Linked DNA regions of Homo sapiens: region 2 is linked to region 1. A link means that fine-mapping ties the variant in region 1 to the expression of a gene that starts in the linked region. Tissue or cell type: whole blood. Region 1 holds a variant in brackets; the other region holds the start of a gene. All regions are shown on one strand. Distances are between the middles of the regions.

Region 1 (2,500 bases):
AAGCCTCTGGTGCTAAGACAGGTCTTGGTTCTCCTCTGATTCCACCTTGCTTGGACCCACACATGTGCAGGGTGATAGGTGTAGTGACCTGTAAGAGAACAGGGAGTCGAACTGGGGGTGGCCAGTGTACCCAGCAAAGCAGAAAGACAGGCAGGCTATCAAAACAGAGCCACTTCAATGAAATCACCTTGCTGGTGATTTCCACGTAAGCTGGTAGGACCTGCGCTATCCATTTTATGTCCTCCTCGTCCTGGTCGTCCCCCTTGAAGACACTTGATTTCTGATCTTAGACCAGACAGGCGGGAGGTGAAGCTCTGGACTTTTCCTGTTGTTGACGTAGGAGGACAGGAGGCTGTTTCCAGGGGGGAATCGGCCAGGGCCATTCTGGGGGCATTTTGGGCTCCTGGTTGTTGGGAAGTTGGTGTGCATGTTGAGGTAGAATAGAAAGGTAAAGGTGGTTTCTGTTAGCAGCAGAGGGGAGCACGTTGCTGGAGAGAATGGCACCAAGCAGGGTGTTATGGGTCCCTGACTCCTTCAAGCGCTGCTCACCAGGACTTTCCTCTCCGCAACATGCAGGGCAGCCAGCAATGAGCCCGTGCCCTTTGGGCGGGAGGAATGTGTTCATCTGAGATGCTGGTGATCATCTTGGCACTTGGTAGAAATGTGGGGATGGGGTCAGAGGGTGGGGTCTGGTTTTCTGAGTGCCTTGGGGGCTACAGAAAGTGCTGGAGCTGGGAGTAATTCTAATTGGGCTCTTAAGGTGGGGCGGGAAACTAGATAAAAAGAAAACTTCTATCGTCTTCCAGAGCCTCTGAGGGTAAGACTGTGGAAGTTCCTTACAAAGGAGATGTGGAAAACACTATCCTGGATATTCTCGGGGGACTGAGGTCCACGTGCACCTACGTGGGGGCCGCCAAACTCAAGGAGCTCAGCAGGAGGGCAACATTCATCCGGGTGACCCAGCAGCACAACACCGTGTTCAGCTAACCCTGGGGACAAAGCAGCGTCTGGCTCGAGTGGAAGCGTCCAAACCTGCTTTTCCCATCTCCCCCCAAGTCTGTTCCGTCAGAGCTTCTGGCTGCTCCTGAATGGTGGAATGCTGTGTCCTCTCTTCTGTCTCCTGC[T/C]GCCTGGAGGCTTCGGGGCTCTCCCGCCTGCCTTCTCGGGGCCCAGACGCAAGGCACCGATTGGGCCAACATCAGAGCCCTGCTGCCCAGAACTCATAACCTCATTGTTCAAACCAACACTTGCACCTTTCTCTTTTTCTCTTTCTCTCTCCCTTTCTTTGTTTTTCTTTCTTTTTTAAAAGAAGATGGTTTCACTTTAATATAATGCTATTATCTTAAGACTTAATGGAGTTGCTGGAGTTTGTATTTCCAGGAGTCAAGTTGAATGGTTTGGGATTTGTTTTGCTACCTTCCTAGACAGGCTGATGGCAAGCCTCTCCCGGCGATTAGCAGACAAGTCACCTTAGGAGGGGCAAGGAGAGGAGGACAGTGCGGGGGCCAAGGGTGGACAGGCCGGAGTCAAAGTAACTGGCATCCCTCACCTCTAGCTTTTGGTTGCTGCAAAAGAACAAAAGCAATTAACTGGACAGATGAACATGAATTGTTTTCCCAGCTGATACTCACAAAGTTGAGCCAATGTGTTTTCCCCGAGTTTCATTACATGTGCTTTTCAGGGACAAGTCATCTGTCGCTACCAGTTTGCTGTTGCCTCTAGGAAGCTGTCCCTGTCCTGGCTTCTCATTTCGTTTTGTTTTCCTCCATCTTTTTTTTCCCCCTTCTCAGTCCCAACTTGTCTTAATTTGAAATTCCACAGGATGTTTTATGGGAAGGTTGTCTCCCAAGAAATTAGCAGGTGGAGTCACACTGAAAAAGAGCCAAAGCTTTGATCAGTGGCATCCTAAAAGGCATTGGTTTGAGACATGAGTTAGAGCCATTCCCTCAGTGTGCCAGTGAATCCTTTCTCGGAAGGACCACATGGCACTACTGTATAAGGGTCAGTTAACGGGTTGGGAACAATGACATTGTCTTGGAGAATTGGCCTCTGCAGCTGACCTGCAGCAGTCCACCAGGATGCTTGTTTAAACAGTGAACGCAGAAGAAGTGATGACCGGCCGCTAAACTTTGAAGTATTGAGTTCCAGGCCTGGAAAGCGTATGCAGATCAGGTTGTTTTACTTTGCTTTTTAATAAGGCTGAAGAGCAGATACACAAGTCAGTTTTCTTTGGAAAGGCAAGCAATGACCCTGGAGTAGAGAAGATCCACAGGGTGCTGCTGTGCCAGGGTGAATGAATGGCCTGATTGTCCACAGTGACCGATGGCATGAGAAGGGTCCAACCAGAGCTGTCACACTCTGGGATAATACAGGCCCACTGTTGGTCCTTTAAGATTATGTTTAGAGATCCAGCCAGCAGCATTGTCTCCATTGTAATACTTTCCCCTACTAAATCCATTAAGAGTTTTTTTTTTTTTTTTTTTTTTTTTTTTTTAATTTGAGA
Region 2 (2,659 bases), 57 kb before region 1:
CTGCAGAAAAATGGAAGAGAATGAAAGATGATTCTTGCCTTTGTGCAGTTAGCATTCTAGTTTGAAAATACAAACACAATGCACATAATGTAACATGTGACTACAAATCTGTAACTACCATGCATTGAGCAACTACTATGGGACAGACATTGTGCTTACATAAACACACACACTTTAATTCTCACAAAAACCAGGGAGGAGATAGGGTTAACCCCCCCTCCTGCCCCCACCCCTTTTATGAGAAAACTGAGACTTAGAGAAATTGACTCCCCTAAGGTCACCTAGCTAGACAGTGGTGGAACCAGGTTTCAAACTCAGGCAGAGATGTTCCAGGACAAAAGCAGCTTCAGTGAATAGTTGTAGCAAGTTTTAAGGACTGAGAAATTTATATTGAATTTTTCTGCGGCCTTAGGCAAGTTATTTCATTTATAGAAGCCTCGTTTTTCCTTATCTGTGAAATGGCTCTTTCTTCATTGGGTTGTTCTGAGAGTGAATGAGATGATGCATGAAGCCCGGCAGCACATTTCAAATGTATAATAAAAGGTCGGTAAGGTCAATAAGTGAATCAATGAACTCACATCACTGGTAACCCCTCGAACTCACATCACTGGTAACCCTCAGAGGGGACTCAGGCTCCTCAAATCTCAGGATCTGCGTCGACTACAGACCTCACTGTTTTTCTTAAACAAAAATCCTGAAATCCAGGCTGGGCGCAGTGGCTCACGCCAGTAGTCCCAACACTGGGAAGCTGAGGCGGGAGGATTGCTTGAACCCAGTAGTTCAAGACCAGCCTGGGCAACACAGTGAGACCTTGTCTCTTAACAACAAGTCCAAAGGGAATCATGGCCTCCACAATCCCAGTACAGCTAAACAGTTAACTGCCCACGTTCTTTTCCTTAATTCTATACAACCTCCCTGGGGTTTCTGGTTCTTTGGCAAGTGAGAGACGTGCTCCTCAACACTGGGTGAGCACACCGGGCTTGAATTTTAAAAAAGGAGAATCCGCCGGGCACGGTGGCTCACGCCTGTAATCCCAGCACTTTGGGAGGCCGAGGCAGGCGGATCACTTGAGGTCAGGGGCTCGAGACCAGCTTGGGCAATATGGTGAAACCCCGCCTCTAGGAAATAATTTTTAAAATAAGCTGGGTGTGGCGGCGTGCGCCTGTACTCGAGGAGGCTGAGGCATGAGAATCGTTTGAGCCCAGGAAGTCGAGGCTGCGATGAGCGGCGATAGCGCCACTCACTCCAGCCTGAGCGACAGTGAGACTGTCTCAAAAAAAAAAAAAAAAAAGTAAAAGCTCTCAGGGAGCGACTTTTCCCTTGGATAAGGCAGCCACACGCTAAGTCCCCTCTCCATCGGGGACCCTGGGGACAAACAGAACGGTGCGCATTTCCCTCCCCCGTCCCCATTCGGTCACTGCCACGGGCTGTACACCTGAGGGGGAAGGACGGGGGCGGCGGCGCGAGGAGGAAGGGCTTCGCCGCCAATCTGTCCCTAACCAGTCTGCCTCTCAACCCCTGCCTGAGGCGGAGGCGGTGCCCGGGGCGGGCCAAGCGTGACCGCGGGTCGGCGGGGCGTGTTTAAGACCGCGGCGTGCGCACCCGGCCCACGCCAGCTCCCGGCCGCGGCACAGCAGCCCCGGCGCTCCCCGCGCCGCCCCGCGCAGGCGCCCCCGCCCCGCCGTCGCCGCCGCCGCAGCCAGGAGCCGCTGCACCATGCCCCGCATAGATGCGGACCTCAAGCTCGACTTCAAGGATGTCCTGCTCCGACCTAAGCGGAGCAGCCTCAAGAGCCGAGCCGAGGTGGGGGACGTTCGGAAGTCGCAGTGGGGTGGGATTTTTTTTTCCGGGTGGCGCGGGGCAAGTGGGTGGAAGGGGGTGGCACCGGGTTACCCTGCCTGCTTTGGTGTTTGAGACTGGGGCGCTGCGCCCCCGTTCCCGCGCCCCAGCACCTGCCAGGACGTGAGGTGTCTTTAAGGGCGGTGATACGGGGGCCCATGAAATTCTCTACACGTCGGTCCCGTTGGGTGGCCTAGGGGAAGTTCACAGTGAAACTCGACCACAGATGAGCGAGATCCAGTGGCCAGTTGGTTTAGAAGGAATAGGGGTACGAGGGCGCTTATAGCAAGAAAAGGAAACTGGAGCTAGGGGAGAGAGGACGAGAAAAACAACTGCAGATCCCGGTGATTTTTGGCTGCGTCTCCTAGTGCTGATAATTGCTGCTGCTTTCGCTTCGGGTCCAGCGGTGGAACTTCGTGAACGCGTCTGAAAAACCAGAACCCAGGGCACAAGTTCAGGGTTTCCTTTCTGAGTTTGGCGGCCTTGCTGGCAGTGGGGCTTGGGGACTCAGCGGTACTGGACAGCCCGCGGTCCCAGCCTAGCCCTGGAGAAGAGTTTCGAAAGCTTTGGGGTGAGAGAGGTGGGGGCGAATTGGAAGCCTCGGGCATTTCCCTGGTTCTGCCTGGATGTCCTCAAATCCTAAGGAACAGGTGGAGACCGGACTGGAAATAGCCTGAGGCTGGGGGAAGGGAGGCCAGTCCCTGAAGGATAAACTAGTTGCCTGAAAGGCAGAGTGCCCCGGGGTGGTGTGCGCTGGTGACTGGCTTTGCTGAGAGCTGGAGAGGAAGGTGAGGAAACCGGACACGGTTGAAGGCTGGGG

Evidence for each region. PIP is the estimated chance that this variant, and not a neighbour inherited with it, causes the effect.
Region 2: GMPR starts here. The variant in region 1 is fine-mapped to the expression of GMPR in whole blood (TOPMed, PIP above 0.99).

The regions. Positions count from the first base shown.
Region 1 is chr6:16,294,200-16,296,699 of GRCh38, forward strand. It overlaps GMPR (guanosine monophosphate reductase), which reads left to right. Exons shown (of 9, transcript NM_006877.4): 9 at 807-1,350. The coding sequence ends at 987. Among named protein-coding and RNA genes, the nearest start is that of GMPR, 57 kb to the left of the region's middle. The variant T/C (reference allele first, on the strand shown) is at 1,125.
Region 2 is chr6:16,236,978-16,239,636 of GRCh38, forward strand. GMPR (guanosine monophosphate reductase) reads left to right here and starts at 1,610. Exons shown (of 9, transcript NM_006877.4): 1 at 1,610-1,803. The coding sequence starts at 1,717. RefSeq lists silencers at 1,393-1,492, 1,613-1,712.